4 linked regions of the Homo sapiens genome follow. Each later gene encodes a partner of the first gene's protein in a complex. Each region holds a gene or a part of one and is shown in the gene's direction. Other genes may lie near its edges. The genes, in order: OGT, CSNK2A1, ZNF831 and TAB1.

What was found.
Region 2: the proteins of OGT (region 1) and CSNK2A1 are in contact, whole or in part, in a crystal structure (PDB 3PE4), measured with the Homo sapiens proteins. Residues at the interface, in NP_858058.1 of Homo sapiens: Lys406, Asp441 (codon at 92), Leu502 (codon at 471), Pro503 (codon at 474), Ser504 (codon at 477), Val505 (codon at 480), His506 (codon at 483), His508 (codon at 489), His509 (codon at 492), His527 (codon at 546), Asn567 (codon at 2,260), His568 (codon at 2,263), Pro569 (codon at 2,266), Tyr642 (codon at 4,744), Thr643 (codon at 4,747), Lys644 (codon at 4,750), Ala646 (codon at 4,756), Gly664 (codon at 5,756), Thr811 (codon at 6,391), Asn815, Thr819, Gln849, Phe878, Pro904, Val905, Ala906, Pro907; in NP_001349699.1 of Homo sapiens: Pro340, Thr344, Pro345, Val346, Ser347, Ser348, Ala349, Asn350, Met351, Met352.
Region 3: the proteins of OGT (region 1) and ZNF831 are in contact, whole or in part, in a crystal structure (PDB 8FUF), measured with the Homo sapiens proteins. Residues at the interface, in NP_858058.1 of Homo sapiens: Phe723 (codon at 6,045), Ile734 (codon at 6,078), Met779 (codon at 6,295), Ile787 (codon at 6,319), Ile790 (codon at 6,328), Asn791 (codon at 6,331), Arg792 (codon at 6,334), Gly793 (codon at 6,337), Leu808 (codon at 6,382), Ala809 (codon at 6,385), Thr831, Arg832, Ser833, Gln834, Tyr835, Gly836, Leu837, Pro838, Glu839, Arg877; in NP_001371283.1 of Homo sapiens: Phe937, Ser938, Pro939, Lys940, Tyr941, Leu942, Leu943, Arg944, Leu945, Pro946.
Region 4: the proteins of OGT (region 1) and TAB1 are in contact, whole or in part, in a crystal structure (PDB 4AY6), measured with the Homo sapiens proteins. Residues at the interface, in NP_858058.1 of Homo sapiens: Asp441 (codon at 92), His506 (codon at 483), His508 (codon at 489), His509 (codon at 492), Asn567 (codon at 2,260), His568 (codon at 2,263), Pro569 (codon at 2,266), Gly641 (codon at 4,741), Tyr642 (codon at 4,744), Thr643 (codon at 4,747), Lys644 (codon at 4,750), Ala646 (codon at 4,756), Gln849, Phe878, Pro904, Val905, Ala906, Pro907; in NP_006107.1 of Homo sapiens: Pro389, Val390, Val392, Pro393, Tyr394, Ser396, Ala397, Gln398, Ser399.

What each region holds. Positions count from the first base shown.
Region 1 is NC_000023.11:71,557,104-71,564,122, forward strand, and holds part of OGT (UDP-N-acetylglucosamine--peptide N-acetylglucosaminyltransferase 110 kDa subunit), read left to right. Parts: coding exon 1-2; intron 3-91; coding exon 92-193; intron 194-389; coding exon 390-569; intron 570-2,163; coding exon 2,164-2,322; intron 2,323-2,484; coding exon 2,485-2,574; intron 2,575-4,671; coding exon 4,672-4,797; intron 4,798-5,743; coding exon 5,744-5,914; intron 5,915-6,026; coding exon 6,027-6,143; intron 6,144-6,225; coding exon 6,226-6,396; intron 6,397-7,019. UniProt on the Homo sapiens protein: Catalyzes the transfer of a single N-acetylglucosamine from UDP-GlcNAc to a serine or threonine residue in cytoplasmic and nuclear proteins resulting in their modification with a beta-linked N-acetylglucosamine (O-GlcNAc).
Region 2 is NC_000020.11:484,789-491,807, reverse strand, and holds part of CSNK2A1 (casein kinase II subunit alpha), read left to right. Parts: intron 1-1,926; coding exon 1,927-2,028; intron 2,029-3,029; coding exon 3,030-3,130; intron 3,131-4,232; coding exon 4,233-4,381; intron 4,382-5,345; coding exon 5,346-5,432; intron 5,433-7,019. UniProt on the Homo sapiens protein: Catalytic subunit of a constitutively active serine/threonine-protein kinase complex that phosphorylates a large number of substrates containing acidic residues C-terminal to the phosphorylated serine or threonine.
Region 3 is NC_000020.11:59,158,930-59,166,833, forward strand, and holds the start of ZNF831 (zinc finger protein 831), read left to right. Parts: upstream 1-4,891; 5' UTR 4,892-5,278; exon of another isoform or gene 5,279-6,010; intron 6,011-7,904.
Region 4 is NC_000022.11:39,395,201-39,402,782, forward strand, and holds the start of TAB1 (TGF-beta-activated kinase 1 and MAP3K7-binding protein 1), read left to right. Parts: upstream 1-4,579; 5' UTR 4,580-4,602; coding exon 4,603-4,635; intron 4,636-7,582. UniProt on the Homo sapiens protein: Key adapter protein that plays an essential role in JNK and NF-kappa-B activation and proinflammatory cytokines production in response to stimulation with TLRs and cytokines.

The sequences.
Region 1 (7,019 bases):
AGGTACTACTGTTTATTATAATATGTGCAGTTTAACACCTAAAATTTAACTTTTGGAAATTTTTTACCATCCTGCTTTATTTATTTTCCAGGATTCAGGGAATATTCCAGAAGCCATAGCTTCTTACCGCACGGCTCTGAAACTTAAGCCTGATTTTCCTGATGCTTATTGTAACTTGGCTCATTGCCTGCAGGTAAAGAATAACAGGCCAGTAATTGGCTCTCAGTGTTGTAATAGCTTTTTAATTGTTGTATGCCATAAGAATCCAAGCCTGACTGGAAATAGTATTTTTAATAGGCTATCTGACATTACTTTAGGCCAAAGACATATCAAATATTAAATCCTGGGATAGGACTTTCTGGATAATAACTTGTTTTTGCTTTCTCTAGATTGTCTGTGATTGGACAGACTATGATGAGCGAATGAAGAAGTTGGTCAGTATTGTGGCTGACCAGTTAGAGAAGAATAGGTTGCCTTCTGTGCATCCTCATCATAGTATGCTATATCCTCTTTCTCATGGCTTCAGGAAGGCTATTGCTGAGAGGCACGGCAACCTGTGCTTAGATAAGGTGTGATTCTTTTGTTTTAATCTTTTTGTTGTAAACTAAAACACAAATACAGAAAACTGTAAAAATCAAATCTGTGGCTTAATGAACGATTATAAAGTGAACACCACCCAAGTCGAGAAATAAAACTTTTGTGGGCCACTTCAGAACCCCTTCCATTGTGTCCTGAGTATAACCCCCTGCACTTCATAAGACGGAATCCTTAACTCCTTCACTTAAACACTAATGATAGACTGATGGTACTTTTCTTTAAGTTGAAAGCCATAATTTTTTTTTCTTTTATCTTTTTTTTCTTTTTTTTTTGAGACGGGGTCTTGCTCTGTCGCCCAGGCTGGAGTGCAGCGGTGTGATCATGGCTTACTGCAGCCTTGACCTCCCCGAGCTTAGGTGATCCTCCCACCTCAGCCTCCTGAGTAGCTGGGACTACAGGCGCATGCCACCACACCTAATTTTGTGTTTTTTGTAGAGATGGGGTTTTGCTATGTTGCCCAAGCTGGTCTTGAACCTCTGGGCTCAAGTGATCTGCCCACCTCGCCCGGCCAAAGTGCTGGGATTACGGGTGTGAGCCACCGCGCCTGGCCAGCCATCATGTTTAATGGAGTGCTTGGTATTTTGTATTCACCTTTGAGAATTAGAGCAGTACTTGATCAAGGATTGGATCAAAGGTTGGATAATAGATTGGAGTGCTAGGTGTACTTTTTTTTTTTTTTTGAGACATAGTGTCTCTGTCATCCAGACTGCAGTGCAGTGGTGCCATCTCAGCTCATTGCAACCTCTGTCTCCCAGGTTAAAGTGATGCTCGTGCCTTAGCTTCCCGAGGAGCTAGGATTACAGGCGTGTGCCACCACGCCTGGCTAATTTTTGTATTTTTAGTAGAGATAGGGCTTTGCCATGCTAGGCTGGTCTCGAAATCCTGACCTCAGGTGATCCACCTGCCTCAGCCTCCCAAAGTGCTGGGATTACAGGCATGAGCCACTGCCCCCAGCCATAATTTTGTTTTTAGAAAATGTTTCCCTATAGAATTTTCTAAAATGCGGGAGGAAACCATGCTCTGTCCATACTGCTTCATACCTACAAGTGTTAGATTTGCTCGTACTTTTTTTTTTTTTTTTTTTTTTTTTTGAGACAGGGTCTTGCTCTGTTGCCCAGGCTGGAGTGCAGTGGCACAACCTTGGCTTACTGCAACCTCCACCTCCCAGGTTTGGGCGATTCTCCCACCTCAGCCTCCCAGGTAGCTGGGACTACAAGCATGTGCCACCACGCCCAGCTAATTTTTTTTTTTTTTTTTTTTTTAGTAGAGATTGGATTTCACTGTGTTGGCCAGGCTGGTCTCGAACTCCTGACCTCAAGCGATCCACCTCCTTGGCTTCCCAGAGCGCTGGGATTTGCTCATGCTTTATAGATCTCAGGAGCAGGTCAAAGTATGAAGCATATTACATAAAGTGCTGAGGTTGCATCTCTCTGGCAATATTAACTAAATGCTCTGGGCAGACCTTTTTCAACAGGTGTGAGGTATAGGTTTGGTGTGTTTTTCGTCAGTTTTCCTAGATGAAAATTTATGTAGATTTTACTAACAAGCATTGGATTCTGTTGATAGATTAATGTTCTTCATAAACCACCATATGAACATCCAAAAGACTTGAAGCTCAGTGATGGTCGGCTGCGTGTAGGATATGTGAGTTCCGACTTTGGGAATCATCCTACTTCTCACCTTATGCAGTCTATTCCAGGCATGCACAATCCTGATAAATTTGAGGTAAGACTAGTGTTTCTCTAGAATCACTATTTGTTTAAAAAAGAAAAAACCCACAATGTTGGCTTGTCACCATGAGGCATGGAAACCTAGTGTCTTTTGGAAAGATTTGAGCCAGAAAGATTTGAGCCAATGTTATTAAATATGCCATGTGCTGCCTTTCAGGTGTTCTGTTATGCCCTGAGCCCAGACGATGGCACAAACTTCCGAGTGAAGGTGATGGCAGAAGCCAATCATTTCATTGATCTTTCTCAGGTAGATGAAACTCTCATACTTTAACTTTTTATTTTGAGCAAGTTTAAATAAAACTATTAGCATATAGTTTATTTTTGATGATAAGTATTAAATGCTGTAGTACCACATATAGGCAATTGTGTTGATCTTATTTCCTTGATCATTTGTGTTAATCAGCATGGCTTTTTCCGAGGTTGCAAATGAAACTGAAATGTGTTATGCTTGTGCTTGGACATACAACTTTTCTGGAGATTGAGCCAGCACTTGTGACAGAAGATACTTAATAAATATTGACAAAATGGTGACTTGGGAGAAGAATAAATAGGTCTTTTAAAGAAAATAGGGCCGGGTGTGGTGACTCATGCCTGTAATCCCAGCACTTTGGGAGGTCGAGGCGGGCAGATCATGAGGTCAGGAGATGAGACCATCTTGACTAACATGGTGAAACCCCGTCTCTACTAAAATACAAAAAATTAGCTGGGTGTGGTGGTGCATTCCTGTAATCCCCGCTACTTGGGAGGCTGAGGCAGGGGAATCGCTTGAACCCGGGAGGCGGAGGTTGCAGTAAGCTGAGATCGCACCACTGCACTCCAGCCTGGCAAGAGCAAGACTCTGTCTCAAAAAAAAAAAAAAAAAAAGAAAAAATAGATGAACTATGGTTCATCAGTTTCCATGGGCCTTTGCCTTTGGTTATCTTTATTTCTGTACTTGTTCTATTGTTGTATCCTCTAGGAGAGTAAGTTTTATGATAAATTAAGATTGAAACCTATGGGGGAATTAATTTGCTGAGTATGTAGGCTACAGTGTTTTCTTTGTAGACTCTATTAGCCACTTTGACTAATAGAGATAATATACTCTTTATATGTGTGTGTACACACATGTATGTATGTACATACACATGCAGGTATGATATGTATGCATATATGTATAAATATACATGTGTATGTGTATATATATATGAATCACTGAAGTCCTAGCAGAAAGGTTTTGAGACTTCTCATTTAATAAATAGTATGTACTAACAAATTTTGCAGTATAGCTGTTGCTTCAAAAGTATACCTGGCCATTTTTGATACACAGTTGGACTCTTTGTGACCAAGAAGCATACCTCTTTCTACCTCTGAGACCTTTAGGGACTCACTGCTGATTGATTGCAGTCTAAACTCTTCAGCATAGCTTTTGTAACCTTTCTCTGTTTGCCACAACTTTGTCAATACTTTAACTCACCATTCAACATCTTGTATACCCTATACTAAATAGAAGTGAATTACTCACCCTTTTTTTTTTTGAGATGGAGTTTTGCTCTTGTCGCCCAGGGTGGAATGCAGTGGCACGATCTCGGCTCACTGCAATCTTTGCCTCCCAGGTTCAAGCGATTCTCTTGCCTCAGCCTCCCGAGTAGCTGGGATTACAGGCGCCTGCCACCACACCCGGCTAATTTTTGTATTTTTAGTAGAGACGGGGTCTCACCACATTGGCCAGGCTGGTCTCGAACTCCTGACCTCAGGTGATCCACCTGCCTCGGCCTCCCAAAGGGCTGGGATTACAGATGTGAGCCACCATGCCCGGCCTACTCACCATTTTCTAAACTCCCTCACACTTTACTCTAGTTCTTCATTCATACTGTTCTCTACTGAGATTGTATTCTGTTAAACTCCTTCAAACTCCTATTCGTCTTTGAAGACCTATTTTCAAATACCAATTCTAGGCTGGGTGCTGTGGCTCACGTGTATAATCCTTTGGGAGGCTGAGGTGGAAGGATTGCTTGAGACCATCATGGGCAACATAGTGAGACCCCATCCCTACCAAAAAAAAAAAAAAGATTACAAATTTCAAATACCAATTTCTCTGTGATATGTTGTTATTCATACATTCAATCCAGAAGTGAACTCTCCTTCCTTTGTGTTCTGTTTCTTTAATGCTTTGGGCCCATTTTAATGACAGTCAACCATATTTGTGCCCGAATTAATGTAGTTAATTTGTGTTCTTACCTCTTTTCCATCTGGGAATCTGAATTATGTTAAATGCCATTAAAACTAAATGCCATTAAAACTAAATGTCATTAAAACTAATTGATCTGAGATTATACATAGTGAGTTCTTATTTTGTATTCTGTAGATTCCATGCAATGGAAAAGCAGCTGATCGCATCCATCAGGATGGAATTCATATCCTTGTAAATATGAATGGCTATACTAAGGGCGCTCGAAATGAGCTTTTTGCTCTCAGGCCAGCTCCTATTCAGGTAAACAAATTAACAGTCATCACTTATAACATGTATTTGGCTAAGAATACAGTGAGGTGCTGCTTTTCCTCCCTCTGGTTAACTGATATTTGAAACTGTAGGGCAGACATACTTTTAATTTTTTTAAGTTGTTGAAATGCACAGGACAAAAAGAGTGTAGAGCACAGTGCTTATAGGTACATGTATATAGAGACATGCAATTCATGGTTGGCTATGAACAGTTACTCTGTCTTGCAAATTTGAAGAACATTTTAGCATTTTGAAAGTTAGTCTGAAATACAGGCCGGGTATGGTGGCTCACGCCTGTAATCCCAGCACTTTGGGATGCTTAGGCAGGAGGATCTCTTGAAACCAGGAGTTTGAGTCCTGCCTGGGCAACAAAGCAAAACACCCTATCTCTACAAAAAATTAAAAAATTAGCCAGAGTGGTGGTGTGCCTCTGTGATCCCAGCTATTTGGGAGGCTAAGGTGGAAGGATTGCTTAAGCTTAGGAGTTTGAGGCTGCAGTGAACTATCACTATGCCACTGCACTCCAGCCCAGGTGACAGAGTAAGAGTCTCTCTTATAGAACTGCTTCATTGCTTTCGGCTAAAGAAGTCAGCCTTGCTGTGCGTGTGGCAAGTGCCTGTAATCCTGGCTACTCTGGAGGCTGAGGCAGAAGGATTGCTTGAGCCCAGGAGTTTGAGGCTGTAGTGATCTACGATTGCACCACTGTATTCCAGCCTAGGGAACAGAGTGAGATCCTGTCTCTAAAAAAGAGTTAGACCTCCTTGTTTATTTACTTATTTAATTTTGGCACCTTTAGGTTCTTTTTTTAAAAACCACTTTATTGAGGTACAGTTGACATACAAAAAGTTGTACATATTTAATGTATGTGACTTGATGAATTTAGAGGTAAGTGTACTGATAAAAGTTCTTAATCAGTTTTTGATCTGATTTTTTTAAGGCAATGTGGCTGGGATACCCTGGGACGAGTGGTGCGCTTTTCATGGATTATATTATCACTGATCAGGAAACTTCGCCAGCTGAAGTTGCTGAGCAGTATTCCGAGAAATTGGCTTATATGCCCCACACTTTTTTTATTGGTGATCATGCTAATATGTTCCCTCACCTGAAGGTAGGTATGAAACAGTGCTATGGACGAATTTCAAAGAACTGTAGCTTTTTATTTCCTTGCTATTGTCTATGTAAATCCTAAAAGACATGTCTGAAACTATTTTTTCCATTAGAAAAAAGCAGTCATCGATTTTAAGTCCAATGGGCACATTTATGACAATCGGATAGTTCTGAATGGCATCGACCTCAAAGCATTTCTTGATAGTCTACCAGATGTGAAAATTGTCAAGGTCAGAACCTAGTCAGTATTGTCATTGAAATAAAGTTAACTGCATTCACGATCTTTTCCCTAATGATGCATTTTTTTTTCAGATGAAGTGTCCTGATGGAGGAGACAATGCAGATAGCAGTAACACAGCTCTTAATATGCCTGTTATTCCTATGAATACTATTGCAGAAGCAGTTATTGAAATGATTAACCGAGGACAGATTCAAATAACAATTAATGGATTCAGTATTAGCAATGGACTGGCAACTACTCAGGTGAGAAGATAATAATACACCATTATATGTCCCGCCAAGTATGCATTTATTTCCCTTAACCTCATGATAACTCTAGGAGGCAAGTATCATTATCACCATTTTTATGGATGAGGAAATGAGTTTAGTGGAAACGTGCATCTTATATAGGTGTGTCTGATTTTAAAAGTCTCCTGGATTCAGCCAGCAGATTATTACTTACTGAGAAACTGCTGTGTTAATATCTTGTTATTCCCTGCCTGTGGCTTTACTCTCTTACATGATGAACTATGTGTAGATTCCATACAGTTTCTTGCTTCTGTAAACCCATCCTTTCCCTAGCTAAATCCTACTCAAACGTTCAGTTCAGACAGCTCTTCCAGGAATCCATTTCCGTACTTACCGCTAACGTCTCCATCCCTACTTCATTGGTACCTGTCTTTTATACCTCTGTAATGTTTGGAATATATCATTACATACAGCACAACAGATGATAATTCCCTGTGTTTGTATCCTCTACTGAATTGAATTACTGAGCCCATGTCTTAATCACAGTAATGTAGTATGTACTCAATAAATAATATATTGCATGCTTAAATAAGTAGCTCTATCAAGAGAGTGTAAGGCAAAGATCTCTGACCTCTAGA
Region 2 (7,019 bases), on another chromosome or scaffold:
GGACTACAGGCACCCACCACCACCCCAGCTAATTTTTCTTGTATTTTTAGTAGAGACTGGGTTTCACTGTGTTAGCCAGGATGGTCTCGATCTCCTGCCCTCGTGAGCCACCACGCCCGGCCTTTTGTTTGTTTTCTGAGGCAGGGTTTTGCTCTGTTGCCCAGGCTGGAGTGCAATGCCATGATCATAGCTGACTGCAGCCCCGAACTTCTGGGCTCAAGTGATCCTTCCAGCTTAGCCTCCTGAGTAGCTGGGACTACAGGCGTGCACTACCACACCCAGCTAATTTTTAATTTTTTTGTGTGTAGAGAGAAAGTCTCACTATGTTGCCCAGGCTGATCTCAAACTCCTGGGCACAACCCATCCTCACACCTTGGCTCCCCAAAGTGCTGAGATTACAGGCATGAGCCACCATGCCCATCCTGTAACTAAGTTTAACCAATCTTCAGAGTAAATTCAAGAATGTTTTCTTGTTCTTCTGAATTGTATACTAAATAAAAAGGTCTTCTCCCCAGCTCCCCCAAAAAGCCTTCTTTCTCCTCACAGAAAAAGGAGAAAGGAACCAAATTAATAATAGATTTGCCAAGTGTTTAAAAATCTGAAGTTTTCTTGGGAGTATCTTTTATGCCCAGTCTTTCCAGGTTATTATCAGTTGATTTTAAAAGTTTCAGACTTTTTGTTCTTGTAGGAATTTCTTTCTTGGGGTCTTAAGGCTATAGCCCTGAGTTCAAAAAGCATTTTATGCATAAAAATAGTTTTTACAGTATTACTAATAATTGTGAAAAACAGAACACTGTCCTATTATAGGAAAATTAAAGATTGAATTCTGAAACATTTATGTAATAAAATACTAATGATACACATTAGATGGTCTCCATGGGCTAACAATTTGGAGGTTTTTTTTTTTTTTTTTTCATGTAAGTGAAGAAAACAATTCAAAATAGTATGTATATTAGCTGAGCATAGTGGTGTATGCCTGTAATCCTACCTACTCAGGAGGCCTAAGCCCAGGAGTTGGAGGCTGCAGTGAGCTATGATCACGCCACTACACTCCAGCCTGGGCAACAGAGCAAGACCCTGTGTCTTTAAAAAAAAAAAAAAAAGAGCCAGGCACAGTGGCTCACGCCTATAATCCCAGCACTTGGAAAGGCCAAGGCAAGTGGATCACAAGGTCAGGAGCTCAAGACCAGCCTGGCCAAGATGGTGAAACCCTGTCTCTACTAAAAATACAAAAAAATTAGCCAGGCGCGGTGGTGGGCGCTTGTAATCCCAGCTACTCAGGAGGCTGAGGCAGAGAATTGCTTGAACCTGGGAAGCTGAGTTGCAATGAGCCAAGATCACACCCCTGCAGCCTGGGCGACAGAGCAAGACTCTGTCTCAAAAAAAAAAAAAAAAAGTAAAAATTGTTTTAAAACCGAGTGAAAGATGCATAAAAGAAAAAACTAAAAAAAAAACTAAAAAAAAAAAAAAAAGAAAAAACTAGCCAGGCACGGTGGGTCATGCCTGTAATCCTAGCACTTTGGGAACCTGAGGCGAGCAGATCATGAGGTCAGGAGTTTGAGACCACTGGCCAACGTAGTGAAACCCCGTCTCTACTAAAAATACAAAATTAGCCAGGCATGGTGGCACGCGCCTGTAGTCCCAGCTAGTCAGGAGGCTGAGGCAGGAGAATTGCTTGAACCCGGGAGGCGGAGGTTGTGGTGAGCCAAGATTGCGCCACTGCACTCCAGCATGGGCAGCAGAGTGAGACTCTGTCTCCAAAAAAAAAAAAAAGAAAGACTAAAAAGAAATATATGAAGATGTTATTAGTGTTTTGATTTTGAGTCAGTGGAGTGATTTTTTTTTAATTTTAAAAATTAATTTTTTATTTTGAAGTGACAAGCCTGAGGATTCACAGATAATAACAGTGAGTTTACTTTTATGCAGATGTACGATTATAGTTTGGATATGTGGAGTTTGGGTTGTATGCTGGCAAGTATGATCTTTCGGAAGGAGCCATTTTTCCATGGACATGACAATTATGATCAGGTAATATATGTTATACCCATTGAAAAATGTACTGGCCTAATGCAATGATAGCCAGCACTGCCTGTAACTTTCAGTTCACTGTTTATTCAGCCACCCCGATATTGATCCTTAGATTGATGTTTCGGGAGCTACCAGCTTAGCCTTTTGAAATCAGACATTCCCCCCTAGTCTTTGTCATTTGCATTGCTTATTTTATTGTGAAGAATACATATAAATTGTCATCCAGATTTTTAAAATAGGACATTACCTTAGAATTCTCCTAATAAACCCTTATCTCCAATATGGTGTTTTCTCCAATATGTGAGCCCATATGTGGTATTTCTGTGATCCTTTTGGCTCTTTATATGGGTTGAGTTACAGATGTTTCTTAAACTAACTCCACTTCCCCCTTGAAGATCAAAGGGCTCTTTCATTCACAAGAACCTGGAATGATTCTAGGACCTTGTGGAAGGTACCATTGTCTTGTTCCCTTTGAGCACCATGTCCAATTTTAATGAGTCAAAGAATACAACCTGAATTCCATTAAAGTCAATAACTCTGTATCAAGTGCATGCAGTACTGAGGAATACAGAAAAAAGAAAGAATAGTTTTCTTCCCCTCAGATAGTTCATAGCTGATCTTGTAAGGGAGTCAAACATACAACAAAATAGGTTACAGTCATAACTTCAGAGTAGAAATGTGGACAAGGCACAAAAGGCAGTAGTGGTGAGTAGTTTGAGTGTGCAATGGGAGCTTCCCAAAAGAAGTGACATCTTCAATTGGGTTTTGAGGGGAGAAAAATAAGGGTTCACCAGGGTGACATTTCAAGAGGAAGAAACCAGTTTATAAAGTAGTTTGCTTTTTCTAACACTATCACATTGAGTTGAAGTCTAAACTGTTAGGAGGTAGCATTCATACCTGTAGACATGATGACCCGTTTATGTAAATTCAATCATTGTTAATTGTTGATTTGTTAATATAATATGCTTGTGATATGGGTTTTTGTCTTTCTTTAATACTAGTTGGTGAGGATAGCCAAGGTTCTGGGGACAGAAGATTTATATGACTATATTGACAAATACAACATTGAATTAGATCCACGTTTCAATGATATCTTGGGCAGGTAAGTCATGAAACAAAATATGTGCATCTGTGGCTTAAGCACTTTGAGAGTGAACTGGCACTTAGGATCTTCAAAATAGTTATGTTTTCTTTGCCAGCACTGTCAGGATGTCAGTGGTCCAGTGCCACAGGATGCTGCATTGAGCAGGCCTCTGATAAAGGCATTGGATTGAATGGCCCTTTATTCAAATTAACTTACAGGAGTCTGATGGAGGGGTTATAGCTAGAGGATTCCTACAAAATGAATGTAGATTCTAGTAGAAGGGTTACAGTTGAGGCAAAAATCAAAATTTACCTTGCTTCTTTAAGTGAAAAACCTCTCTCCAAGAGAAAGAAATTGAAGTAGAAAATGCATGCTTTAAGACTGATGTGCAGGCTGGGCACGGTGGCTCATATCTGTAATCCCAGAACTTTAGGAGGATCACTTGAGCCCAGGAGTTGGAGACCAGCCTGGACAACATAATGAGACCCTCGACTCCATGCATGGTGATGTGTGGCAGTAGTCCAGACTACTAGGAAGCTGAGGCAGGAGCTTCCCTTGAGCCCAGGAGGGAATGCTACAGAGAGCAATGAACATGTGGCTGCGCTCCAGTCTGGGCAACAGAGTGAGACCCTGTCTCCAAAAAAAAAAAAAAAAAGGCTATATGCAGACAACCGACTCTTAACAGTAGTGACTAGATATAGTACTTATACACTTAACCACTCAACAGGAGGAGATGGACTTTCCTGATGCAAAGGCTTTTGCTGGCCAATTGGCAGAGATGCCAGGAATATGTGTGGGGATGGGAAATAGGCCTGGTGAGCTCAGCCACCTGACCCTCCTTGCTACACAGAAGCGGTCACGTCCTGTCAAGTAACCTGAATTATGTTTCTTAAAATTGAGAGGACTCAGATGTCTTTTTTCACTCTAGCTATGTTGTTTCCAGTCTCCAGTTAGCTTTGTTGTCCCACTCAGTGGCAGAGCGGTGCAAGACTACCCTCTTGAGTTTGGATCCCTCTTTGCTTTTGTCTGGGCTGTTAGCCACTAAGAAAAATGTAGGAATGAAATGTTGGGCTTCTGTGCCCACGTGGCCCATTTCTCATGCCCTCTTTTGGTCCTGCAGACACTCTCGAAAGCGATGGGAACGCTTTGTCCACAGTGAAAATCAGCACCTTGTCAGCCCTGAGGCCTTGGATTTCCTGGACAAACTGCTGCGATATGACCACCAGTCACGGCTTACTGCAAGAGAGGCAATGGAGCACCCCTATTTCTGTGAGTCCAGATATCTAGCCCACAGAGTTTGTGCAGGCGCAGAGTCCTATAGAACAGAGTCGTAATCCCAGCTCCTGTCAGCTTGCTGCAAAGTTAATTCACCCACACTGAGCCTCAGATTCTTCCAGTGGGGATAGTGATGGCAACTACATTGCAGAATTACTGGAAGAATTCTTCTGTAACAGAATACATGACACAAGAGCATTCCTAAATAAACTCTTTTCATACTGTGAGGATGACACTTCTCAGTGCCTCAGTCTGGAATGGTTGAATTAGAATACACAGCCCTGTATCTTTCCTGTCCCTAGTAATCATTCGTTGGAAAGAGCTAATGAGGCTTACAAATCTTAAAATTGTATGAACACCTTGACTTAGATTTGTGAGTATAGCCACCTGTGCCATCCTAAGTGAAAATACCACTGAGACCCACCCCATCTGCACTGTGATGTTAGCTGCAACATGACATTTTTCCTTCGGTGTGATGGTTTTGTACTGAATCATTTATACTTTTGCCCAATACCTGAAGCAGATAGATAGGCTGATTGGGATAGAGAATGTGGTCATAGCCCTAAGCTACATGGACCTATAGCTTTGGCCTACTTGGTACTGGGCTGTGGACACACTGGTAATATATTACCGTCTTTGCCGAGTTACAGTGTCTTGTCTCCATTAAACCTCAACAGGACCAGGGCTTCATTAAATTCGCTCTGCTATAAATAATTACCTCATCTTTCTACCATTTGATTGAAAGGTTAGCTTTTACCACAGTTTGATAGGAAAGCTATTTCTGCTTTTTACCACTTGTCTAATTCATGGTGAAGGCAATTGCCACCTTAAGTTCTTTGGGGAATAATGTAGAGTATATATAAATTGCAAAGAATGAAGCTGGCTGCTTTCAGGCTTCCAGACCATTAGTTTAATCTTTCAAGCAAAACAGAACCTAGCCTTTTTGTCTCTTTTCTAGACACTGTTGTGAAGGACCAGGCTCGAATGGGTTCATCTAGCATGCCAGGGGGCAGTACGCCCGTCAGCAGCGCCAATATGATGTCAGGTCAGTTCATTGGTAAATTTTCTTTAAAAAAATGTGGAAGTCAATTACTGTTCTTAGCTTTGTGGTCTGATTTCTTGTATACCTTCTCTTCTCCGTACTGGTGGCCTTGTGACTTTTTTTTAACCAGGTTTCAGCATGCTTGACATTTGGTATACTTTAGTGATACTGTCTTGAGTAGGGTATCCCCTTCTAGGCTAGAATCTCAGCATTCCTGGCTGAAAATTTTTGGCATAGGGGCTTGAAAGTGCCAAGCCATGAAAAGGAAAAATACACCATTTCATCTTATAGTTTGAAATGACAGTAGTTACATGGCCCTTAGAAACAATGTTAAGAAATGGGGTATAGAGGTGGGGTTTATACATAGGTGTGTATGTGTACAAGGACAGTTCCGTGACATGTGCCAGAGCAACTATAGAGTGCCTATCAGTTGTAAAAACATAAGTAAAATGGTTTTCCATTATTGGATCATTGTGACGCACAGTGAATTTTTATAGAGTACCCAGTTATTCCAAAGGAACTACAGGCACATAGCATAAGAATTATACATATAGGCAACATCCAAGTGGGTGCATATCTGGTAGTGAAGGCATTTACTTACATATCCTCAAATAATTGCTGTTGCCCTCCTCTTTTTTAAGAAAAGAACTAACTGCCTTCTAGAATTTACCCCTTGAGTATCCTACCTCTGTACAGAGTAATGTATATCCAAACTTACTTGTAGCCTTATTTGTAATAACAAAACATTGAGAATAGCTATCAGTAGGAAACTGGTTAAATCAGTTATGGTATATCCATTTAATGGAATGTGGTGCAGCCAGTAGAATAAGAGTTTCATGTTCTGTTAGATCTCCAACTCCAATATAATAATGTGAAATTTAAAACGCAAGATGCAGGGCCAGGTGCAGTGGCTCATGCCTGTAATCCCAGCACTTTGGGAGGCTGAGGCGGGTGGGTCACTTGAGGTCAGGAGTTCGAGACCAGCCTGGCCAGCATGGCGAAACCCTGTCTCTACTGGAAATACAAAAAATTAGCTGGGCGTGGCGGCGGCGCCTTTAATCCCAGCTACTTGGAGGCTAAGGCAAGATAATCGCTTGAACTTGGGAGGCAGAGGTTGCAGTGAGCCGAGATCGCACCGTTGCCCTCCAGCCTGGGTGAGAGTGAGACTCTGTCTCAAAAGAAAAAGTGAGATGCAGAGCCATGTCTAAGAGGAGTGGAGAAGAATGTATAATAATGTTCTCATATATATATATATATATATATATATATTTTTTTTTTTTTTTTTTTTTTTTTTTTTTTTTTTTTTTTTTTTGGAGACAAGGTCTTGCTCTGTGGCCAAGGCTGGAGTGCAGTGGCACAATCTCAGCTGCTGCAGCCTCCGCCTCCCGGGTTCAAGCGATTCTCCCACCTCAACCTCCCAGGTAGCTGGGACTACAGGCGCCCGCCATGACGCCCAGCTAATTTTTGTATTTTTAGTAGAGATGGGGTTTCACCATGTTGGCCAGGCTGGTCTTGAACTCCTGACCTCAGGTGATCCGCCCAACTTGGCCTCCCAAAGTGCTGGCATTACAGGCGTGAGACACTGCACCT
Region 3 (7,904 bases), on another chromosome or scaffold:
GACTTTATGTGCACGTCACCAGTCTGTCAACTGATGTCTCTTTCTGTTCCAGGATCCAAGCCAGGGTGGGTGGTGATTTTTCATATAACTTTTTTCAAGTGCCATAATTATGGAGTTATTTTAATGAATATTACAAAAAATATCACATCAATTATTATAGCTTGGGACAAATTAAATGATAAAAGCAAGTCAATTTGAAGAGGTGTGTTATGAAAATAAATACAGATGACTTGTGGTACAGCCCTTTACTTCACAGACCCACCAAGAAGCTCAGGCTTGCTTAACACCAAGCAAATCCCTAACAAAGTCCTGGTGGGGCTGAGATAAGGACTAGCAACCCAGTACCCCTTCCATGGCCCAACAGCGCCCCTCTCCCTGTTTGGATGCTGCAGAAGGGAGGAAGGAGGTGGAGAGGAGAGGAACTCTCAGTGGGAATAAAGTTTCCTTTTCAATTATTCAGCTGATCCTTGACCCCCATTACCATGGATAATCAAAAACGGGGTGGATGCATCATGCCTTAAATAAAAACATCGCTGAGGTGGCCCTGAGGATGTGCAAGCAGATAATTGCATGGGGTGTTCATCCAATGACACTCCAGGGGGAGGTACTTTCCTATATGCACGGAGATGAGAGCGGTGGCCCTCAGCACAATGTCGCACATCTGAGGAGTGTTACTTCCTGAGGGGGGCTCCTCAGGTTCAGCTTCCTGTTCCCTCGCACAGGGCTGGTGATGATCAACCTCTTCTGACAATGGAGAGAGCATGCGGTGGATGTTAGGGGAACCAAACCCCAAGAGGGAACCAGCTTCAGTGGAAAGCGGAGTGCGTGCCTCCCCGAGGCAGGGCATTGCTGAGCCCCAGAGAGGAGCCCTGGGTTCCGCTGCCTCCCCCACAGGACAAGGCATGACAGCACCTGCATTGGAATATAGACTGTGCTTTGGAGCCTTTGGCATCAGCTTCCACCTGGTGCGTAAGTCTGTGGTCTCTCCAGCAAGTTCAGGGAAGTGAGGGAGTCGCAGTTCTCTGTCATTCAGCAGGTGTGGACTGAGGGCTGGCTCTGTGCCAGGCCCTGTGCTGGATGCTGGGTTCCATTGTGAGGCCAGGCACAGCCAAGGCAGAGACGAACATTCCTACAGTCGCTCACGACACCAAGCTCCACAGACCAGAGAATGGACGGATCCACAGGAACGAAAGACAGGCTGTCAGGTGCCCAGCCCTGGGGAGACTCCAGAAGAGGAGAGAGGACCACCCATCATGGCTGACCTTGGGAGGACTTGGGTCTTCACAAATTGTGTTCCTTGGTATATATAAGAGGGTTAAAATAGACACAAGAAATATCCATCTATTCCCATTCATTTATTTGACACATACTCTTGGGGCCATGAGTTCAATTCCCAGAAGAGGATCATGATGGTGGGGGGAGGAAGGATGTGGCGAGGGGCCGTGCAGGAGCCCAGGGGGCTTGTCTCATGGACGCTCTTGATCGAATTCCTCTGAGGCCCCAGAGGTGCTCCTTCATCCCCAGCTTGCTTGTGAGGCTGCGTTGGCTCCCCAAGGCCGAGTTTCCTGCTGAGACCCAGCCACACACTTAGCCCTGAGTGTACCAGGTGGCTCCACTCAGAGCGCTGCTCCAGCCCCTCTCCCTGGGGCTTCCTGCCACGTGACTGCACATTTGGGGTCTGGAGAAGGGCCCAGGGACTGAACTGCAAAGGTGAAGGGTGTCCCTGCTCCTCCTGACCACAGCTTCTGGACTGGCATGTGTGTCTGATGGTGCAAGACCAGAGGGGCATGGCCAATGAGAGAGTTATTCTTTCTACCCGTGAGTCTCCCTCGGACACACAGGATTTCTCATGTCTCCTCCTGGTTTTGCTGCTTTTTTTTTTTTTTTCTAGCTGCATGAGGTAGTTTTGTTTGAAAGAATAGTCAATGCAGACTGCAGTTTTCCGAATGAGGCTTGCTCTTGGCAAGTGAGTGAGATATCTTTGTGTTTGTTTGTTTCCTTCAGAAAAAAGGGCCTGAGAAAGCAAGTTAACAATTCTTTGGAAATGATTTTTCTTTTTCTTTGGTGACTGTTGCCACATGCTTAGTTCATTGGTTATTGGTTGCATGCTCTGGAGAGTCTATCTGTACCATGGTGCTTAGAAAAATTAGAATGGGAGTGATGGATTTATTTGTTATATTGAATTGATATAACTCACATACCATGCAATTCACCCTTTTAAAGTGTCGGATTCAGTGGCTTCTAGTATATTCACAAGGTTGTGCAACCATCACTGTGATCTAATTCCAGAACATTTTCAACACCCCCAAAGAAACCCCATACATTACAGTCACTCTCACTGTCTTTGTTTTTTTTTGTTTTTTTTTGAGATGGAGTCCCGCTCTGTAGTCCGGGCTGGAGTGCAGTGGCATGATCTCAGCTTGCTGCAACCTCTGGCTCCTGGGTTCAAGCTATTATCCTGCCTCAGCCTCCTGAGTACCTGGGACTACAGGTGTGCACCACCACACCCGGCTAATTTTTTGTATTTTTAGTAGAAATGGGGTTTCACCATGTTGGCCAGGCTAGTCTCAAACTCCTGGCCTCAAGTGATCCGCCTGCCTTGGCCTCCCAAAGTGCTGGGATTACAGGCATGGGATTACATGTTGCTGCATGGATACATGATTTTATTATTTTTATGGCTTTGTATATTCCGTGGTGTATATATGCCACTTTTTCTTCATCCAGTCTACCGTTGACAGGCACCCAGGTTGATTCCATGCCTTTGCTATTTGTGAATAGTGCTGTGATAAACATACGAGTGCAGGTGTCTTTTTGGTAGAATGATTTATCTTCCTTTGGGTAGATACCCAGTAATGAGATTGCTGGGTCGAATGGTAGTTCTACTTTTAGTCCTTTAAGAAATATCCAAACTGTTTTCCACAGGGGTTGAACTAATTTACATTCCCACCAACAATGTGTGAGTGTTCCCTTTTTTTTCTGCAACCTCACCAACATCTGTTATTTTTTGACTTTTTAGTCATAGCCATTCTGACTGCTGTGAGATGGTATCTCATTGTGGTTTTGATTTGCATTTCTCTGATAATCAGAGATGATGAGCATTTTTAAAATATGCTTGTTGGCTGCTTGCATGTCTTCTTTTGAGAAGTGTCTCTTCATGACCTTTGCTCACTTTTTAATGGTTTTGTTGTTGTTTGTTTAAGTTCCTTATAGATTCTGAATATTAGACCTCTGTTGGCTGCATAGTTTGCAAATCGTTTCTCCCATTCCATAGGTTGTCTGTTTACATTGTTGATTATTTCTTTTGCTACATAGAAACACTTTGGTTTAATTAGGTACCAGTTGTCAATATTTATTTTTGTTGCATTTGCTTTTGAGGACTTAGTCTTAAATTCTTTGTCTAGGCTGACATTCAGAAGAGTATTTCCTTGGTTTTCTTGTAGGATTTTTATAGTTTGAAGTCTTACATTTAAGTATTTAATTCATTTTGGGTTAATTTTTGTATATATTGAGAGGTAAGAGTCCAGTTTCATTCTGGAATTAGAGTGGCACTAATCACTCTATTCAACATTCTTCTGCATATGGTTAGCTAGTTTCCCCAGCACCATTTATTGAATAGGGGGTCCTTTCTTTCACTGTTTATTTTTGTTGACTTTGTTGAAAATCAGTTGGTTTTAGGTGTGCAGCTTTATTTCTGGGTTCTCTATTCTGTTCCATTGGTCTGTGTGTCTATTTTTATACCAATACCATGCTGTGTTGGTTATTGTGGCCTTGTAGTATAGTTTGAAGTCAGATAATGTGATGCCTCTGGCTTTGTTATTTTTGCTTAGGATTGCTTTGGCTATTCGGGCTCCTTTTTGGTTCCATATGAATTCTGGAATAGTTTTTTTCTAATTCTGTGAAAAATGACATTGGTAATTTGATAGGAATAGTGTTGAATTGCTTTGAGCAGTATGGACATTTTAATGATATTGAGTCTTATAATCCATGAGCATGGAGTGTTTTATCATTTGTTTGTTTTCTTTCAGTAGTATTTTGTAGTTCTCCTTGTAGAGATCTTTCACCTCCTTGGTTAGATGTATTCCTAGGTGTGTGTGTGTGTGTGTGTGTGTGTGTGTGTGTGTGTTGCTATTGTAAATGGGATTGTGTTCTTGATTTGGCTCTCGGCTTGAACATTACTGGTGTATAGAAATGCTACTGATTTTTGTACATTGATTTTTGTATCCTTAAACTACTGAAGTCATTCATTGGGTCTAGGAGTCTTTTGGTGGCAACTTTAGGGTTTTCTAGATATAGAATCATATCATCAGTGAAGAGAGATAACTTGACTTCCTCTTTTCCTATTTGGATGCCTTTTATTTCTTTCTCTTGCCTGATTGCTCTGGCTAGGATTTTCAGTACTATGTTGAATAGAGTGATCAGTGCCATATCTTAAAAATAAAACCTAATTCAAACAAATCCATGTTGAACAAAATATCACCATTTTACATAAAGACAGCATCGCAGAAATCTTTCACTGGGACCTCCCACCATAGTCAATTGCAGTGGAAATGCTCATTCTGGGCCCTCAGGAACCTCTGGGGTTACATGTGGAGGTTCTGCAAACACTTGTTCCATCCACATCTCCAGGAAAACGACCACCTAGGCTCTAATTCTTAAACTTGCCTGCACAGAACAACCTCATCTCTAATGCAATGTTTTTTTGCACACCTACATTTCTGGGCAGCAAGCTCTTTATAGGTTGTTAGGTCAATAGTAACAATTACTAAAGAGCTGAGCGGTGGCTCTTTTTTTTTTTTTTTCGTGTCTGCTTCTATCTCTTCCTGTTTTCTAAGGGTTGCTACCGTGACGTTAGGTAATGTATAGGAAATAATTTACTTCCTATTTCTGGGCCATACCAAGTTTTATCTCTGCTTGAGTCTCTTCCAGGTTGCTTGAAATGGTGCTTTTCTCAGTTAAACGTGGACTTGACATAAAGGCCAAGCCACAGGAGGCTGCCCTCTTTTATTTTATTTTATTTTCTAAGGCTCAGGGAGCATCTCTCCGTTCTCTGAGATGCTGCCTGCAGAGTAGGAACTGGGAGAGAACACTAAAATGCCCTCTCAGCAAAGAGTAGCGAGCTCCCTACAGAGAGTGAGAGCACGGGCTCTTGAGCTCATCTCTTCTCTGTGGGGCCAGCCCAGTGGTCCTTTCTGGACCTGTGGGTGTCTTCTCTGGGCAACCAGATCATTGTGTTTGAATCAGAGCATCATTGGCTGAAAACACTCCACTGTTTATAAAGGTATGTAACATGCTCCATGACATAAGCATATATAAAATGTCAGTTAAAAAAAAACTCTTTTACTCTATGTTCTTAATGATATATTTATCTTCAAGCACGCAGTTAAAGGGAAAATGCTACGTAAAACTGTGTGTGACCCAGTTCAAGTAATTCTCTCATGTGCTTAATACTGCTGTTGCTTTTGTCAAAATATTTACTACAATTCAAAATGGCTGTCAGAAACCAGGTCCACAATCCATGTTCTACTAAACAGAAAAACATTTATAAGAAAATTTATTGCTTTATAAACTGTTTTTTTTCCCAGTGATGAACCTAATTAAACTGAAAGTGTGAATTGGTTAGAACATATTAGCCCAAGTATGTGTGGTATATATATACACATATATATGTATGTTTTATTAGGCCAAGTTTTTTATTTGTATATAATATAATTGAAATATCAAGGTATTTGATAGAGCTACTATTTATAGCAATTCTACTGATCAGCCACCCAAGGGTAGCATTTTTCAATGAGATTTACAAGGGCCAATAGTCCATGTATTTATACACATATCTGACTTCCCAGTATCCAAAATAGCAAAGAGCTGGAGGCTATCTCAGATCAGCCATGGAAGCCATGCTCTGAGAGGTAACGTGTTTCTCCTTTCCCGTAGCAAATCTTTCTGTAAGAATGAAACCAGAGATGTTATCTACCAAAATGCAACGAGGGACAGGATGCAACTTAGAAAAATGGTAACATTAGCTGACTGGGAAAAACAGAATCAACGTCAGGGCCAGTTTAAAATAATATGCCTTTTAACCACCCTCGCTTTATTGCCCCAGCTAAGAGCAAGTATTTAGGACCATAGGCTAATATTAATCAGAGAGAACACTTAGGTTCTGTGGCAATGTTGGGGTCTGTGAGATTTGCTTCCTTAGCTGTGCTTCCGCTGGGAAGCTGGGGAGGGTTGGTCCTGAAGGAGGAGTGCCATGTGAGCAGGGTTACCCAAAAGCACCTGCCTAGGGGAAATGGGCTCACTATCAGGCGCCGTGGAGTTACCAGCTAGAGAGACTTTTCTCCTGGTAGAGACCATGAACATCATGTAAGCAGAGAACCAAGACTGTAAAAGGGAGGTAGGGTAGGCTGTTTGGTTAGGGGAGTGGGGCAGGAACAGACACAGGGAGAGTCTACCACGTCTGGACAAATCACATCTATGGTTTTATCCAATCCTTTGAACAAATGAACATGAGCCCCACTTTTCAGATAAGGAAAACACAGCATGGAGAGTTTAAGTGACTTATTCCAGGTTACAGGGTTTATAGGTAGCAGAGCAAAGGTTCAAAGACAGGTCTTATCTCCAGGGTCTGGGAACTTTACCCACCATGCTGCCTGTCTGGGTGTGGCATGGCAGGGAAGGCTGAGTTATGCTGGAAGGTCACACTCAGGGATTTCTGCAGAGTGACTTTGGGGCATAGGTAGGAAGCTTGTTCTCAGTACTGGCTTGTTACCAAGTGAGAGATCTTTGTATGTTTTCATTGCTTTCCTTGTAGTTCCTTTTTTTTTCTTCTTTTTTTCTTTTTTGGAGCTGTAATCTCGCTCTGTCACCCAGGTTGGAGTGCAGTGGCATGATCAGCTCACTACAACCTCTACCTTCTGGGTTAAAGCGATTCTTCTGCCTCAGCCTCCTGAGTAGCTGGGATTATAGGTGCTCACCACCACAACTGGCTAATTTTTTTGTATTTTTAGTAGAGAAGGGGTTTCGCCATTTTGGCTAGGCTGGTCTCTAACGCTTGACCTCAGGTGATCTATCTGCCTCGGCCTCCCAAAGTGCTGAGATTACAGGCGTGAGCTACCACACCCAGCCCCTTGTAGTTTCTTTATGATCACTTTGTATTCATAGCAATGTTGGAGCTTTTCCAGATATGGTAAATGGTAGTGATGTCAATTTTCCTTTGAATATATAAGGGTACATAAGAAAAAGTGAGTTGATATAAAGAAAATGAAAGGAAAATGGTCTGTGCAGAGTCGGTGTTTCTCCAAGGGTAGGCTGTGGTACTCGTGGCTAGGGTCGGTTCTAGATACACTATGGATGCTGCAGTAAATAACATTGACTCACACACTGGGAAGGTTGTTCCTGTTTTGATTCTATTTACGTATTTATTACTTTCATAAATTAGCCTCTTTGTTTTGAGAACATTGCAGATTCACCTGCAGTTGTAAGAAAAAAATACAGAGAGATCCCATGTGTTTTTTACCCAGTTTCCTCCAATAGCAACATCTTGCAAATCACAATCAAAATATTGACAGTGATATAGTCAAGATACAGAACATTTCTGTCACCGCAAGGATGCGTCGTGGACACCCCAAATCCCTCCTGCTCTCCTCCTCTCTCTCTCCCCCCCAACCCCTTAACCCCAAGCAATCACTAGTCTGTCCTCCAGTTTTATAATTTGTCATTTCAAGAATGTTATATGAATGGAATCATTCAGTGTGGTGTGTAGCCTTTGGGGACTGACTTTTTTCATTCAGCATAATTCTCTAGAGATTCATCCAAATGTTTCATGTGTCAACGGTATGCTTCTTTTTATTGCTCAGTAGTGTTCTGTGATATGGATGTACCACAGTTGGTTTAAATATTCATTGTTG
Region 4 (7,582 bases), on another chromosome or scaffold:
ATGCCCGGCTAATTTTTTGTATTTTTTAGTAGAGACGGGGTTTCGCTGTGTTAGACAGGATGGTCTCAATCTCCCGACCTCGTGATCCACCCACCTCGGCCTCCCAAAGTGCTGGGATTACAGGCGTGAGCCACCACGCCCAGCCAAGTGGCTCATATTTGTAATCCTAGCACTTTGGGAGGCCGAGGCAGTCAGATCAGTTGAGCCCGGGAGTTTGAGACCCGCCCGGGCAACATCGCAAAACCCTGTCTCTACAAAAAACAAAATGGAAAATTAGCCAGGTGTTGTGGCACACCTGTAGTCCCAGCTACTCGGGAGACTGAAGCAGGAAAATCACCTGAGCCTGGGAGGTCGAGGCTTCAGTGAGCTGTGGTTGCGTCACTGCACTCCAGCCTGGGTGACAGAGTGAGACCCTGTCTCAAAAAAAAATAAATAAATAAAGTAGCCGGGTGTGGTGTTGTGTGCATGTAATCCCAGCTACTCGGGAGGCTGAGGCAGGAGACTCACTTGAACCCAGGAGGTGGAGGTTGCGGTGAGCCGAGATCATGCCATTGCACTCCAGCCTGGACGACAAGAGCAAAACTCCATCTCAAAAAAAAAAAAAAAAAGGCAGCCCACCTCCACTTTGTTTTCCTCCATAGCACTTGTCACCACCTGACATACTTACTAGTTTATTTATTACCTATCTCTCCTCACCGAATGTGGAAGTCTCATAAGGGCAGTGTTCTTGTCCCTGCTTACCTGGCATGTACTAAGTGCTCTATTGAGGATTGTTGAATTAACGCATGAATCTTCCCACCAAATCTCCTCCTTTCTCTGTGCTCATCATCTAAGTAAAAGGCACCATCATCTACCAGTCATCCCCCTGGGTATTATCCCAGATTTGTCCCTCTTTTCAAAAACCCAAGCATACGCCAGATCTTGTTGACTTAACATCCTAAATATTTCTCAAACCATCCCTTCTGTCACTGCCTTGGTTCTCCTCTTCCATAGCAGATGCCTCAAATGCATAGAGTAACATGCTGCTTTGCACACTGTGAATGTTTCAGCATCCTCTCTGCCCCCTGCGCTCTCTGTCTACCTGCCAGGCCCAGACCTGGCCCTCCTCTAGTGGCCCTGTCTCGGCAGATCCTCCACCACTGGGCCGACGGCCTGGGCCAGGAACCTGGGAGTCATCTTCCACTCCCCTTTCTTCCGCTTCCAATCAACTGCCAGAGTCTTTCTACTTGACCTATTTGGATATTTTTGAAAACTGTCCATTTCTTTTATCCTCATGGCCACCATCCTGGTCCCGGCCACCTCCTTCCTTCTCTTATCTGGGTTATCCCAGCAGGCTCCTAATACTGGTCTCCCTGCTTCCTGTCTGACTCAGTGGGATCCCTCTGAAACACAAATATGATCATGTGACTCTCCCACTTAAATGAGTCCCTACCCTTACAAGATAAAGCCAATTGCTTCTGTTGCACCCATATCCCTCCCTGATTTGTTCTCCTCAGCTCGGCCACAGTCAATTTCTGCCTTTGCCAGTTCCCCCCTCACTTTGACCATGCGATCCCTTGGCCTGAGATGCGCTTTCTATCTTCTCTGCTCAATCCCTCTGCCCTCCCAGACCCAGCTGGAAGGTCACCTCCCCTGTGAAGTCTTCCCTGACTCCCCCAGCAGAATTAACTGCCCCCTCTCTTGGGCTTCTGGCTCCACTCAGTTTGTCACAGGCCTGATGAGCAAGGATATCTTGATAAAGGTGATAACTGGCCGAAAAGCAGTTGGGGCGCCCAATGGCGCAGCCTTCAGAAGCACCTTCTGTGTTTTTGGAACTGTTGGCAGCATCCCAAGGTGAAATGGTAGAAGCATATGGCATGATCATGGGGAAATGGGTCTGGGGAAGGGAAGAGAAGCCACATATTTGGAGCAGATTCTGTTCCTGTTCTAAAGGCTTGGAAGATGTTACTTTATTGAATCCTTGTAACATCCCTGGGAGGCAGGGGTTTTAAAAACAAAGACAGTGGTGGCCGGGCGCGGTGGCTCATGCCTGTAATCCCAGCACTTTGGGAGGCCAAGCAGGGAGAATCTTTTTTTTTTTTTTTTTTTTTTTTTGAGACAGAGTCTAACTCTGTTGCTAGGCTGGAGTGCACTGGCGTGATCTCGGCTCACTGCAACCTCCGCCTCCTAGGTTCAAGCAATTCTCCTGCCTCGGCCTCCCGAGTAGCTGTGATTATAGCCACACACTGCCATGTCCATCTAATTTTTTTTTTTTTTGAGACAGAGTCTCACTCTGTCGCCCAGGCTGGAGTACGGTGGCGCGATCTTGGCTCACTGCAACCTCCGCCTCCCGGGTTCAAGCGATTCTCCTGCCTCAGCCTCCCAAGTAGCTGAGACTATAGGCACATGCCACCACACCCGGCTAATTTTTTGTATTTTTAGTAGAGACGAGGTTTCACCATGTTGGCCAAGATGGTCTTGATCTCCTGACCTCGTGATCCACCCACCTCGGCCTCCCAAAGTGCTGGGATTACAGGCATGAGCCACCGCGCCCAGCTCGGGAGGATCTTTTGAGCTCAGGCGTTTGACACCAGCCTGGGCAACATGGTGATAGCCTGTCTCTACAAGAATACAAAAATTAGCCGGGCGCAGTGGCACATGCTGTAGTCCCAGCTACCCGGGAGACTGAGGTGGGAGAATCACTTGAGCCCAGAAGCTTGAGGCTGCAATGAGCCATGATTGTGCCACCGCACTCCAGCCTGGACAACACAGTGAGAACCTGTTTTTTTTTTTTTTTTAAATGGTGGGGGTCAGGGAGAGATGGCTTGCAAATGAATGTTTGTTTAATTTTATAAAAAGCAGGCAGGTGCCAGGTGCAATGGCTCACGCCTGTAATCTCGGCACTTTGGGAGGCGAAGGCAGGTGGATCACCTGAGGTCGGGAGTTCAAGACCAGCCTGACCAACATGGAGAAACCCCATCGCTACTAAAAATACAAAATTAGCCAGACGTGGTGGCGCATGCCTGTAATCCCAGCTACTTGGGAGGTTGAGGCAGGAGAATCGCTTGAACCTGGGAGTCAAACATCTCTCTACCAATGGGACCCTGTCAATGGCTTGCTTAGAAGGCAACAACTTCCCTCTGTCCTCCAGATGAATAAACTCCTGCCTGGGGCCCACTTGGTCAGAGCCTGTCCCTACAACCCCTTCATCTCTCTCCTCCAACTCTGTGCAAGCCACAGTGGGCTCCCGTGACAAGTGTGCTTTTTTTTTTTTTTTTTTTAAGACAGAGTCTCACTCTGTTGCCCAGGTTGGAGTGCAGTGGAGTGATCTCAGCTCACTCACTGCAACCTCCACCTCCCAGGTTCGTGATTCTCCTGCTTCAGCCTCCCAAGTAGCTGGGATTACAGGCGTGCACCACCATGCCTGGCTAATTTTTTGTAGTTTTAGTAGAGATGGGGTTTCACCATGTTGGCTGGACTGATCTCGAACTCCTGACCTCAGGTGATCCACCGGCCTCGGCCTCCCAAAGTGCTGGGATTACAGGCATGAGCCACCGCGCCTGCCCCCGGCAGAATGTCTTATATACATAAATGTTGTCCTCTCCAATTAAAATGTTAACATTTTAGGTTGGGCGGGGTGGCTCACACTTGTAATCCCAGCACTTTGGGAGGCCCAGGCAGAAGAATCGTTTTAGGCCAGGAGTTTGAGACCAGCCTGGCCAACATAGCGGTACTCCGTCTCTACAAAAAATGTAAAAGATTAGCTGGGCGTGGTGGCGGGCGCCTGTAACCCCAGCTACTCGGGAGGCTGAGGCAGGAGAATCGCTTCAACCCGGGAGGCAGAGGTTGCAGTGAGTCCAGATCACGCCACTGCATTCCAGCCTGGGCGACAGAGCAAGCCTCCGTCTCAAAAATAACATAACATAACATAACATAAAATAATAATAAAATGAAATGAAATAAAATAAAATAAAATGTTAGCTTTTTGAAGGCCTGTCCTGCTCGCTGCAGAACCCACTATAGAGCCAAGCAGGGTCACCTAGGTAGCATTTGCTGAGTGAATGAATTGTCCTCCCCTTACCAACTGTGTTCACAAAGAACCCTCAGGAGTTCAAGACCAGCCTGGCCAACATGGCGAAACCCCGTTTCTACTAAAAATACAAAAATTAGCCGGGCGTGGTGGCTCATGCCTGTAGTCCCGGCTACTCCGGAGGCTGGGGCAGGAGAGGCGGGCACCTGTAATCCCAGCTACTCGGGAAGCTGAGGAAGGAGAATCGCTTGAGGCCGGAAGGCAGAGGTTGCAGGGAGCTGTGATCGCGCCACTGCACTCCAGCCTGGGTGACAGAGTGAGACCCTATCTCAAAAAATAATAAAGATGGGCGAGGAGCAATCGGCCCCGAGGAAAAGACAAAACAAAACAACAACAACAACAACAACAACAAAACGTGCAAGAGCGCGCCTGCGCACACGGTCCGCTACGACCCCCATCCCTCTTCGGGCGTGGGGTGGCGCTGGGCGCATGCTCCCCGGCAGCGCGGTCATCCTCGCCTCCTTCGGGCCGCTCTAGCCGCCCCACTCGCTGCTCTGCGGGGAGGCGGGCGCTCCCGCAGGGGTTCCTCCAAGATGGCGGCGCAGAGGAGGAGCTTGCTGCAGAGTGTGAGGAACAGGCCCGCTCTCTGGGCTTGGGGTTGGGAGCCTGGGCGGGGGTGCTGTCGGGTGCAGGAACGGCTCCTTCTCCGAGTTTGGACAGCCACCCTCTCCGTGGTGGGGTGTGTCAGCCACCTTCTCCTCTCCTCGGGCTGGCCCCCTCGTTCCCGAGGCCAGGGCGTGTGTGCGCGGCGGGCCCGGCCCCCGGGTCAAGGGCGCCGGGGCTGTGGGCTGCTGCTGCCGGGCGTCGAGGGCGGGAGCGTCCTGGAGCCAGAAGGGAACACGGCGGGCGGCAGCAGAGCTATCCGAGTCTCGAGCCCACTGCGACACCGAGCAGACGTGCAATGATAATAACAGCAGCATCCACAGTGTACCGCTTACTGCATCCCCGGCGTTGTGTTAATTGCTTTACATTTGTCAGTTTCATTTTCGTAGCAGCCCCCTGAGATAGGTGCTACTGTTATTCCTATTTGACAGACTGAGACACTGAGGTGGTCGTTTGCCTAAGGCCACACAAATGGTACGTATTGAGGCAGGATTAAAATCAGGCAGTGTGATTCCAGAAACCCCCTTAACCCCTGGGCTGTACTAAAGGAATGACCAGTGGTAGCTGTCACTGGGTTCTGGTCCTGGCTCTGACTGTGTCTCCCTCAGCCTCAGTTTCCTTCTCCTAAGGCGAGAGCGCTGAGTGGAAGAATTGTCTTCAGACTCATCCCTACCCCCGGTCTGGACCCTCATGGGTTTGGCGCTGTCTTCCAGGCCCTGCGTCCTCTGACGCGTATGTGCACATAGATGCACACACATGTTGGCACCATGGACTACTCTGACCTACCAGGGTAGGGTGCTGGCCTCCTGGGTCCTTCCTATGCATGGCACTGTTAGAATTGTCTATGGACTTGTCTGCCTCCTGTACTAGAAAGTAAACTCCGCCGGGCGCGGTGGCTCATGCCTGTAATCCCAGAACTATGGGAGGCTGAGGCGGGTGGATCACGAGGTCAGGAGATCAAGACCATCCTGGCCAACATGGTGAAACCCCGTCTTTACTAAAAATACAAAAATTAGCCGAGCGTGGTGGGGGCGCCTGTAGTCCCAACTATTCGGGAGGCTGAGGCAGGAGAATTAGCTTGAACACAGGAGGCGGAGCTTGCAGCGAGCCAAGATCGGGCCACTGCACTCCAGCCTGGAGCGACAGAGCGAGACTGTGTCTCAAAAAAAAAAAAAAAAAAAAAACGAAAGTAAACTCCTTGAGGACAGGGACCTGTGATCTCTTGTTTACCGCTGTGTCTCTATTATCTATCACCATGTGCTGGGCACTCAATAAATACATTTGTGAAAGGATGAGTAAAGGTTTGTAGCCAGGTCCAGTGCTCGCCCTTGGCGTCACAGAGGTGAGTAGACATTGGCTCAGGGATAACCTGGAACCAGAGCCTTGAAATTATTCTCCCAGGAGCACAGTTCCCAGGCCTCCCCAGTGGGGATTGCTGTCTTCCCCTCCACACCTTTACTACTCCTTTATTTTATTACTGCTGGGCACGTCTGTCTTGTTACCGAGTTGGCATTGATTTTAGACGGCTGGCCCTCTGCTTTGTAAGTTCCCAGAGGGCAAGGTCCCTGTATAACTGTCCCCACTCTAGTTAGCATTTGGGAAACGCTGGTTGGATTGTGACATTGGGAGGGAAAATTGTAAATGGTGCAGGCTGAGTTGGCTTGCTGAGAAGAGAGCAGCCACCTGGGTCATGTAGAGTAGGTGGCTGCCAGCTTCTCCCCTTCCTAGATGTGATGGAACCAAAGGGAATTGTGTTAGGCAGAAGGCCAGCTCTACTAGCCCCAGAATGTGTTTCTCCAGGTGGTGGTGGCCTTTTTTAAAGCAAGAATAGTTAGCTTTAAACACATTGCATCTTGGTGCGTGGCAAAGGGATGGCAGGGATGTCATCAGAAGGCCCCTCCGCCCTCATGATGATCAGGACATCCCTCTCACAGGTTGTATGGATGTCCAGGTGGTGTGTAGGGCTTGCTGATGTCACATCCACTGTCTCAAGTCTGGGGAGAACAACTCAGCTCAGACACCTGCATTCAGAGATGGCTGTGAGGGCTGCTGGTCTGTGGCTACTGGGCAAATATGAATGAGGCGTGGTGCCCACCCTCACTGCGTTTGTAGATCAGCTTGGGAGGAGCATATGCCACTGATACAATACCTGGGGCACTGTCTTGTTATTGTAGACCTGTGTCAAGAGCCCTGGGCAGACAGCAGAGAATTTTAGAGGCTTTAAAGGATGAGAGGAGTTTGCCAAGCAGAGGAGAGGAGGGCCATTCCAGGAGGATGTGTATGTGTGTTTTCTTGACACGTGTGTTTTTGTTTTCATTTTTCTTCCTAGAGATGGGGTTTCGCCATGTTGCCCAGGCTGGTCTAGAATCCTGGGTTCAAGCAATCCTCCTGCCTTCGCCTCCCAAAGTGCTGGGATTACAGGCATGAGCCACCGCATCTGGCTAAGGACAGGTGTTTAAATATGTGTGCATGTGTTTGTTAAGCTTTTCACAAGTTAAGTACAATTAGTACTACAAGTCTATGTGTTGAGGGGCTGCAGAGTGGCCTGATTGGTCTGGGTCAGTGGAGGTTTGCAGGAATGGCATTTGCAAGGGTATGCTGGGGCCACTTGGTAGATCACTTGGTGGGAGCATCATTGCAGGCACTGTGGTACCTTGAAAGGTCTTTTGAAGCAAAAAGCTTTTTTGTGGGTGTATGGGGAAGACAGGATCTCACTGTCACCCAGACTGGAGTGAAGCGGTGTGATCTCGGCTCACTGCAACCTCTGCTTCGTGGGTTCAAGTGATTCTTGTGCCTCAGCCTCCCAAGTAGCTGGGATTACAGGTGTGCACCACCACACCAGCTAACTTTCATATTTTTAGTAGAGACAGGGTTTCACCACGTTGCCTAGGCTGGTCATGAACTCCTGGC